Linked DNA regions of Homo sapiens: region 2 is linked to region 1. Evidence: fine-mapped expression QTL. A gene starts in region 1. The other region holds a variant in brackets. All regions are shown on one strand. Distances are from middle to middle. Region 1 holds the start of TRPM6 (transient receptor potential cation channel subfamily M member 6). Region 2 overlaps TRPM6 (transient receptor potential cation channel subfamily M member 6).

What was found.
Region 2: its variant is fine-mapped to the expression of TRPM6 in whole blood (INTERVAL, PIP above 0.99).

What each region holds. Positions count from the first base shown.
Region 1 is chr9:74,885,036-74,890,417 of GRCh38, forward strand. It overlaps TRPM6 (transient receptor potential cation channel subfamily M member 6), which reads right to left and starts at 2,886. Exons shown (of 39, transcript NM_017662.5): 1 at 2,789-2,886. The coding sequence starts at 2,821. RefSeq lists an enhancer at 1,978-2,272.
Region 2 is chr9:74,860,094-74,865,475 of GRCh38, forward strand. The region is part of intron 1 of TRPM6 (transient receptor potential cation channel subfamily M member 6); the gene reads right to left. Among named protein-coding and RNA genes, the nearest start is that of TRPM6, 25 kb to the right of the region's middle. The variant G/GAAA (reference allele first, on the strand shown) is at 2,003.

The DNA.
Region 1 (5,382 bases):
ATTCAAATAGCTGTTGCATTGGACATCTTGAGGGAAGATTTAGACAACTAACAAAGAACTTGTGGTTAAATTGGTGAAAACTTTGCAAACACAGAGAGACAACTCTGGAAAAAAACAAGGAAGAAAGCTTTTAATAGCATGTAGGGAGGCATAATAATGTTGACCTAACTAAATATTGACCTAACCAAAAATTATGAGATAACTATATTCAGAGGATCTATGGAAGGAATAGGTAGGATGCATGTAAGTGGTAGTGGCAGGAAAACAGAAAAGAGTTAAATCCACACATTTCTTGCAGGAAAGTCAATGCATGATGACTAAACCTCAAAAACCAAGAAGGAGCAATTATAAGGAATATCTAGAGATACAGACAAATAGTAACTAGTTAAAAGAGATGAACATGATTACTTCTCTTAAAAAGCAGGAAGTGATGGAGGGTTCTACTGTTTTTAGATATTAACCCTATGGAATTAATTGATTCTGAACAATGAGAACGTAAAACTTCAATAAAACTAAGAAGTAAAGAAAAAAGGCACTAGTGAGACTCACATCATAATATCTTACCTAACAGTGATGGATTTTACAGAAAATAGTTGCCATGTAGACTTCTGATGTGTCACAAAGGAATAACTGAGTTATAGGTAGGATGGTCACTTTCAGTTCCAGCATGGTATTGATTCTACCAGAAGTATAATGAAAATCACTCAGATTATTTGGGCTGTTTATACTGAAAACTCATGATTTAAAACACAGTGAGGCCAGGCACAGTGGCTCAGGCCTGTAATCTTGGCACTTTGGGAGGCCAAAGAGGATTGCTTGAGCCCAGGAGTTCAAGACCAGTCTGGGCAACACAGCGAGACTCTGTCTCAAAAAAATAAAATAAAATAAAAAGTGAGAAATTTGAAAAAGAAGGAAAAAGAGAGAAGCCATATTTCAGGCACAGTATTTACCAAATGCTTGATAGTTTTGGCATAGATGTCCTATCCAAAAAATTAACTATGATAGATAATTGTAAATAGGCAAGATAAGACCAAAATTTGTGACAAATTGCAACATATTGCACGATTCTTTCCCTTCACCTCTGGTATAATGATCTCAAATGCTATTCATGCCCTTGTCTATCAAGACAAGTTTAACACTACCAAAGGGTACTAGTCTCCAGTTTTGGCCCAAAAAACAAAACTCATGCTAACTCCTACCCTAGATGGTTACCACTCCTGGTGGGAAACATAAGAAACAACCAGATTCTTAAAGTCAAGCCCAGATTCCAGTCTGGCCAAAATAGCTAACGCTTTATCAGTCCTGTAAGAACCCAAAGCAGATGACAGTGAAACATCAAAATCTGTATACAGGGGGAAAGAAATTGAATAACTCGTTTCCCACTTTAACAATTAAAGGTGATCATTTCTCCCTAGAACAAATAATCACAAATGATGTGTATGACTAGAACATCTATGTTCTCAGTGTCTTTTTTTCTCTTTTTTTTTTTTCTTTTTTATGTTCTCCGTGTCTTAAAGCACTGACCTGAGTTCAAATCTCAAATCTGCTTTTCTCCTTTGGTTTCATTTTCCTCACCTGTAAACCGGTGGAGATGGGAGAGACAGGATACTTGGACTTTATAGGATTACTGCCAGGATGAAATAGTTAAGAATCCCAAACTCTTACAACCTGCTAAATACGTCAGGCATTATTCTAAGTGCAAATGGCATGTAGCATTTCAATTCATCTTGAAACTACAAATCGTATTATCCCATTTTCCAGATGAGAAAGCCGAAGAACAGATGTTAACTCGCCCAAAATCACAGGTAGTGATGCAGCTGGGATGCTAATTCAGGCTACCTGGCTCCAGAGCATATGTTCTTATCAGAGCAGGCTGAAATGAGCTAACGTTTGCTAAGCTGCCTGGACTATTCCTGAAATACAATGTGCTCAATTATACTTATTTTTCATACACAGTGTGAGAAAGTCCAGACAAAATAGGCGAGACCAAGAAATTACCAGGATCTCCACTACTCTCCCAAGCGTCTCCAGTGCTCTCCCAACAGCCAGGAGCACCCTCCCTCTCCAAGCCCCCAGAACTTCCTGTTGCGCCATATGCCAGCGGTGGAGAGGAGCCAGCGGGGACTCCTGAGGTTGCAAGTCCGGGCGGCGCCGCGTTGGGGAAGGAAGCGGACTGCGGCGGGGCGGGTGTTTACCGTAACCGGCGCTGTCATCGCTCCGGGACTCCTGCACGGGGAACACTGGGCGCACGGGGACGCGCAGGGGCGCGGAGGGACGGCCGTCTGGGCACTTCTCCAGCCGCCTCGGAAAGCCGCGACCCCCGGCTAGTCAGCGTCCGGGTCTGAGATCTGTGCCCGTGGCAGCTCAAAACGCGCCTTCTCTCCTCCGGATTCTCAGCTCAAGCCACCTCCGAACTCCTCTCCCTCCGGCCCGGAGCGGAATCAGAGCTGCCTCCTCTCCCGGGGTGTTTCCCACCGCCCCGAGCTGAACCCCCGACCCCCGCTAGGTTTCCGCTCTGACACCACCTCCGCTATGGCCGCATCCCAGCTCTTGAAACGGGGGCTGCGGGACCTGCCCTGTAGTAGCGTACACTACCTTAGATAGGATAATCATCTTTGGGTGGAGACCAGAGAACTTGAAAGCCGGTATTTCATAAATCCTAGCTATTCTAGATCCTCGTTAGATGTAGTGTCCCTGGCCCCACCCACTTCTATCTAAGGCCGGGGGCGCAGATCTAGCGAATCGCCTAAGGTCCTTGTTCCCCGCCAGTCGAGCAGCCTGAGCTTACCTGCAAGCGCTCCAAGACAGGTTGTTCTTTCATCTTTGATTTGCAGGCCCTGCTCCCAAAGCCCTGTCTGAGCTTTTAACTGTGGAGGCAGAAACTCTGGGCTCCACCTCCACACGCTGCCTTTTACAGCCCAGTGGATCTGTCACAATACCTTTCGGCTTCAGTTACCTAACTGCCTAGAAAAGAAGGTGACTCTCAGTTTCCTTCGATAAAAGAAGAATAACGAGGATCAAATGGGATGGCCACTGTCATCACAGACATCCTTTGTAGTAATGTATTGTTACTGTTGAGTCAGTGTGGGGCGTGAGGAGATCAGAGATTTAAGCTAACGCACTGCTTTTACTACCTGTGACTTATTGGGCATGTCAAGCCTCAGTTTATTTATCTATGCAATGGGAATAATAGGGACAAAAATCCAGTTCCCTCACAAGGTTACAATGAACAAAGGAAATCACTTAATGTGCTTCATGTGTAACATACAATACAAATGTTTTGTTATTTCTGGTTTTTTTTTCATTTTTTTTGTTTGTTTTGTTTTGTTTTGGTGGATTCCTCTGGATAGGCATCTTCTCTTTCTTTCTTTCTTTCTTTCTTTCTTTCTTTCTTTCTTTCTTTCTTTCTTTCTCTCTTTCTTTCTTTCTTCTTTTTTTAGAGATGGAGTCTTGCTCTGTTGCCCAGGCTGGAGTGCAGTGGCAGGATCATGGCTCACTGCATCCTTGACCTCCCAGGCTCAAGTGATCCTTCCACTTCAGGCTCCAGAGAGTAGTTGGGACTACAGGCACACACCACAGTGCCTGGCTAATTTTATTTATTTATTTATTTATTTATTTATTTATTTATTTATTTATTTTAGAAATGGGGTCTCACTATGTTGCCCAGGCTGGTCTCAAACTCTGGACTCAAGCGATCTTCATGCCTCAGCCTTCCAGAGTGCTAGGATTACAGGCGTGAGCCACCATGCCCGGCCTAGGCAGTCTTGATTAAGGTTGTGGTCAGTGATTTGGGGTGGATCCCAGGGTGTTGGCAGAGGTGGCACAAAGCACACAGGCAAAATGATGCTCACATTATTACAAGTGTAATTAACAATGCTAGTCATTCATCCCTGACAACCGACTTAAAATTAGGGACACCTACTCATTTAGTTTATTATGAATTTTTGCCTGGTGAATTCACATTTGCAGACAGTTTACAGGTTTTTTCCCCTCATTTCTCAATGTGGTTTTAATAAGCATTTCTTTGTTTATTGGAAAATTGTAATCTCTCATATGTGTATTGGCATTTTGTTGTTTTTCTTTTTGTTGTTGTTGCTGTTGTTGTTGAGCCAGGGTCTCGCTCTGTCACCGGGCTGGAGTGCAGTGGCACTATGTCGGCTCACTGCAACCTCCACCTCCTGGGCTCAAGCAATCCTCCAGCCTCAGCCCCCGCAAGTAGCTAGGACTACATGTGCAAGCCACTACACCTGGCTAATTTTTGTAATTTTTGTAGATACGGAGTTTCACCATGTTGCCCAGGCTGGTCTCGAACTTCTGAACTCAAGCAATCCACCCACTTCAGCCTCCCTAAGTGCTAGGCATTTGTTGTTCTTCTATAAACACATTTAATCTCCTTTCCTCTCCTTAACCCATCTTCTTTAAAGCGTTAATCTGTAAACAGTTAACAGGTTCTGAAAGCTCTTCTAAGGCAAGTAAATCCTTCTCGATCTCTGTCTTCCATACAATTTCTTTGTTAGGTCTCTTACAGTGACTGGGTCAGAGAGTTCTCAGAAATCTTCAGACCCACCAAGAAGAGTAGCCATTTGGAACTCAAGATTTGTAAGAAGTCTACCATCTTCTAGTTTACCATCTTTGGTAAACCTACATGTTAGGATGATCATATATTCTTTTCAGATCAAGCTTCAAGGCATTTAGAGCCTGAAATACAAGGGCAATGTGAAGTGCTTAAAGCATTGAATGTACTAGTTTACAAGCTGCCTTTGGTTCCCAAGCTGTATCAGAAACATCTGAGGCATTTGTCAAAAGTGCAGATTCCCAGGCTCCAACCACCCTACCCAGATCTCTTGTATCAGGATTTATAGGGTGGGGCCCAGGAATCTGTATCTTTCACAAGCACTTTAATCAGTTGTCAAACTTGTATATAAAACTTCTTGTCCAGGCATGGTGGCTCATGCCTGTAATCCCAGCATTTAGGGAGGCCGAGGCAGGAGAATCACTTGAACTCATGATTTCGAGACCAGCCTGGTCAACATGGCAAAACCCCATCTGTACAAAAAAAAAAAACAAAAATTAGCCACGCGTGGTGGCTTACACTTGTGGTGCCAGCTACTTGGATGGCTGAGGTGAGAGGATTGCTTGAGCCCAGGAGGTCGGGGCTGCAGTGAGCTATGATGGCACCACTGCACTCCAGACTGGGCAACAGAGTAAGACCATATCTCAAAAAATAAATAAATAAAAAGAAAACTATTCTGGGCACAAACATACCTATGCCCAGGGTAGCTGTGAAAATTAAATTTTAAAATATTCATTAGTAGTCTAGTGTGGTTTGATTCAGGCCAACAAATATTTCCTGAACATAGACTGTTTGTCAGGCATCATGCT
Region 2 (5,382 bases), 25 kb before region 1:
TTAAGTAAAATAGAAAGGAGAAAAACAGAGATTAGTTGATGGGTTCCTGTGTATTTAAATCTTACCTATAAACAAGGAAAACTTCCCAGATCAAGGCCAGAGTCATCTTAAATCATTTTACTCTCTTATTCTTTTTGCATGCTCAGCAGCATTTTCTATGTATTAAAAGACATTCACTAAATTGGCAAAACACTAAAAAACTTGGGAAAACCCAGTCATACAATGTAATTATTTATTTATTTATTTATTTTTATTTTTTTATTTTTTTTGAGACGGAGTCTTGCTCTGTTGCCCAGGCATTCCAGCCTGGCTCACTGCAATCTGGCGCAATCTCGGCTCACTGAAACCACTGCCTCTAGGTTTCAAGCGATTCTCCTGCCTCAGCCTCCTGAGTAGGTGGGATGATAGGCATGCACCAGCATGCCTGGCTAATTTTTGTATTTTTAGTAGCAACAGGGTTTCACCACGTTGGTCAGACTGGTCTCAAACTCCTGAACTCAAGTTGTCTGCTTGCCTTGGCCTCCCAAAGTGCTGGGATAACAGGCATGAGCCACCACACCCAACCCAGAATCACAGAACTTAAAAGGAACTAAATGAACAGGGAATTCAAAATCTATATTTCAATAAGAAATGACACAATCCGGCTGAGCGCAGTGGCCAACACCTGTAATCCCAGCACTTTGTGAGGCCGAGGCAGGTGGATCACTTGAGCCCAGGACTTCCAGACCAGCCTGGGCAACATGGTGAAACCCTGTCTCTACAAAATACAGGAATAAAAACAGCCGTGCATGGTGGCATGTGCCTATAATTCCCAGCAACCCAGAAGGCTGAGGTGGGAGGATTGCTTAAGCCCAAGGAAGTCGAGGCTGCAGTGAGCCATGATTGTGCCACTGCACTCTAGCCTGGGCGACAGAGTGAGACCTTGTCACAAAAAAAAGAAAGAAAGAAAGAAAGAAATGACACTATCTTTTTGAATCAGTCAGCCCTGTCCCCTATTCAAAAACGTTAACAATTTCATTTATTCATTCTCCAAACATTTATTAAATACCTAATTTTTGCAAAGCACTGACAAACATGTTACAAAAAGTCAGTATGTCCTCAAAGAATTCTTCATTCTGAATTTCAAAATACCTGAATCTATGAATTCATTCAACAAATATTTTGAATAGGCCCCCACGCTGCATGCTGGGACTTCTATTGCAAACGAGACAAAGTTCCTGCTCTCAAGGAAGTTAGAATAAAAAGGAGGAAACAGATAAGAAACTGATATCATTAAACTTTATGTGCACCAATTAACTATTTTTTTAATTTTTTGTATTTTTCATGCCTCTGGGACAAGTTCAAGGCCAATTAACTATTAAAAACAGATGCTAAAAGGGTATCTAATGTAGAAGCCTGTATAGACAAAATAGGCAAGCTGTGCTCAACCATTCACTTCTTTCAAAATGCTGAATGGCAGCTTTGTAGTAGGACTACCTGAACAAATTATTCGATTTCTTCATGCCTGTTTGTCTATCAAAATGGGGATAATAATAGTACCTCATAGAACTATTGAAAGGATTAGATAAAGGTTTAGAATTCTTCCTGGGACTTATTAAGTCTGAATAAAGCTCAGGTATTATTACTAGCAATATTAAAAGTAAAAACTGGCTTTGGGTTAATGGTCTGGGAACTTAACTTTGATGTATTTTTTTTTTCATAGAATAATGCCTCCTGACCTCCAAATTTCCCTCACAGTTCCTCTCATACTATGATTTAATGACCTTTACAGGCTCACATCTTCCCTGGACTCCAACTCCTATAGGCCCCATGCCAGTCATTTCTATTGCCCCAGGGCCTAACCCAATGATTGTTGAATGAGCAACAAACATGCTGAAAATAGAACTTCAGGAACCCATGTATACTATTTTCCCTCCAAAGGTGTAAACAGGAAGCCCGTGTCATAACAAGAATGTGGAAACTTTCCTCCTTCAACTCCGGTTATCTTATCTCAAAACTACCA[G/GAAA]AAAAAAAAAAAAAAAAAAAAAGCAGCCTTTAGCTTGAAAATGTTTCAAATAATTCTCAATTTAGAACTTTACTTCCCACCCTGCCAACCTCGTAATAGTTCCTTTGCAATATACTCTCCAGCACACTTCCGAGAGGCCTCCATGTTCAGTTCAACAGAGAACCAAATGTTTGTTGGTTCTGATAGGACAAACACCAAGTGTGCTAGCTTCTGCCACTAGAGCAGCAAATTTGTTGTGGTCGTGGTAGTTGAGAGTAAGGATTTTGACATTTCTGCAGCTATCATGGCAGTCTTCATCGACTGGATGTTTTTTGCTTTTTAATTGTTGTAATTTAGGGGAGGGAAAGGCAAAGGAGAAAGAAGGGAAATGGTGTGTTGGTCTCAATTTGTGTCATCCTAAAACATAATCAGATTTTATATCTAATCTTTGGCCTGAGGTCAGGCTGGGGAATTGCAAAGAAATGTTCACAGACTAACATAGTGAGATACCTTGGGGAGGGATCCAAGTCTGAATGTGAAATTCATTTATGTTTCATATACATCTTATATGCACAGACAAAAGGTAATTTTACACAATATTTTTTAAAAATTTATACATAAAATTGTCCGGGTGTGGTGGCTCACGCCTGTAATCCCGGCACTTTGGGAGGCCAAGGCGAGCAAGTCACTTGAGGTCAGGAGTTCGAGACCAGCCTGGACAACATGGCAAAACCCCATCTCTACTAAAGATACAAAAATTAGCTGACGTGGTGTCGGGCGCCTATAGTCCCAGTTACTCAGGAGGCTGAGGCATGAGAATCACTTGAACCCAGGAGGCAGAGGTTGCAGTGAGCCGAGATCATGCCACTGCACTCCAGCCTGGGTGACAGAACAGGACTCTGTCTCTAAATAAATAAATAAATAGTTTTATGCATGAAACAAAGTTTTTTTGTTTTGTTTTGTTTTTTGTTTGGTTTTGTTTTGTTTTTTTGAGACGGAGTTTCTCTCGTTGCCCAGACTGGAGTGCAATGGCACGATCTCGGCTCACTGCAACCTCTGCCTCCCAGGTTCAAGTGATTCTCCTGCCTCAGTCTCCCAAGTAGCTGGGATTACAGGTTCCTGCCACCACATCGAGCTAATTTTTGTATTTTTAGTAGAGATGGGGTTTCACCATGTTGGCCAGGCTGGTCTCAAACTCCTGACCTCAAGTGATCCACCCGCCTCGGCCTCCCAAAGTGCTAGGATTACAGGCGTGAGCCACTGTGCATGACTGAAACAAAGTTTTAACTGCATTTCAACTGCCACCTGCCACATGAAGTCAGATGTGAAATTTCCCGCTTATGGCACTCAAAAAGTTTCAGATTTTAGAGCATTTCACATTTCAGATTTTCAGAGTAGGGATGTTCAAACTGTATTTCCACTTTATGGCTTTTTAGGGTTCCCAGATAAATTATCTTGGGGTACTCTCTGAGAAGGCATAATTTCACAGATGTTCCTTAATCTTCAAAAAAGTGACTTTTTTTTTGAGACGGAGTCTCGCTCTGTCTCCCAGGCTGGAGTGCAATGGCGCGATCTCGGCTCACTGCGAGCTCCGCCTCCCGGGTTTTACGCCATTCTCCTGCCTCAGCCTCCTGAGTAGCTGGGACTACAGGCATGCACCACCTACGCCCGGCTAATTTTTTTTTGTATTTTTGGTAGAGATGGGGTTTCACCGTGTTAGCCAGGGTGGTCTCGAACTCCTGACCTTGTTATCCGCCCAACTCGGCCTCCCAAAGTGCTGGGATTACAGGCATGAGCCACCGCGCCCGGCAACCTTTTTTTTTTTAAAAAAACATCCACAAGTTTGCATGATTGGAGGTAAAGGGAGACAAAGATAACAGGTCATTTGTTTTCTTTCTACAACTTTTTTGCACCTTAAAAAAAATCTATCATCTAACAACTACTTCTTCAGTGGAACTGATAACTGACTCCGATTTTGATTTCCTGCATTCTCTCTTACACACATCACAGCACTAACAATGTTTACTTGCATTCACTGGACCATCTCTCTCTCTCTCTTAACCTTATTGTAATCCACTTCAAAAGAGAGCATTATTTTATTTATCTTGGAATTCACAACACTAGAATGGGTCAAATAGACAATATTTTCAGACTCCAGATCAACATTTGTTATTTTTTCTTCAGAGTGCCTCCCTTGAAGCAAGAATCCCTTCAAAGTGCCAGGTAGATGGACATCAGGATGTACCATCAATCAATCTGTTGGCTCAGGGAATCCATCAGTGCAAAGCCAGCCCATCCACTTTCAAGTGTCAGCTCAGGGCCTTCTATCTGTCCAAATTCTGCAAGGATACCTACCTGACACTTGATCCGAGAGGGGCAGTCTCAGAAAAACAGCATCCAGGCTAAAAATATCTAAAAACCAAGTTCCTGTTCCACCAACACTACCAGAAAGTGTGTTGACTGATTTTCCACTAAATAGTCTGTCCAGGAGGCAGAGAACACAAAGTAACCTTACACCTTCATCTCACTTTGGTGGTAAAAGGTGAGCACTATTTAGCTGGTAGTAATTTATTTTTGGTAACATCTCTAAAAATTGAATGTCAACTAAATAATTCACAATTCCCTAAAACGCCATTTCTCCTGAGTAGTTGAGAAATTTTACTAACATTTTCACATAGTGCTTTGCTAAGCAAAGGCATTTAGAACCTTGGAATGAGGCCTGGTGCAGTGGCTCATGCCTGAATCCCTGTACTTTGGGAGGCTGAGGTGGGTGGATCACCTGAGGTCAGGAGTTCGAGACCAGCCTGGCCAACATGATGAAACCCTGTCTCTACTAAAAATACAAAAAATTAGCCACGCGCAGTCGTGGGCGCCTGTAATCCCAGCTACTCAGGAGGCTGAGGCAAGAGAATCGCTTGAACCCAGGAGGTGGAAGTTGCAGTGGGCTGAGATCGTGCCACTGCACTCCAGCCTGGGCAATGAGAGAGAAATTCCCTCTCAAAAAAAAAAAAAAAATGGAACGTCAGAATGAATTTCTAGATTATATAAACTCAAGAGTTAAGGAGTAAAACATTTATAAATCTTCCTGGAGCCAAATAGGGGATTAGAGGAACTCAACAGTAACCTTCCAAGTAAAGTGCATCAGAAAGGTGAAAAGTGAAGTGATATCATACCCCTTCCTTCCTCTTTCCAAATTGGTTGAAGCCCTCATTATTTCAGCCCCAAAACCCAATTTCAAAATAGCAGCGAAAGACATCCTTTTCCTCAGTTGTCACTCACGCTTCAGGGTTTAACCAGTCTCCTGGGGAATAAAACATGCAAATGAAACATTTATAATTTCAGATCTTGTTAAATCATTCTGATAAAAAGGGAAGAGGAAATGGAAGTCTCCTTTATGAGTG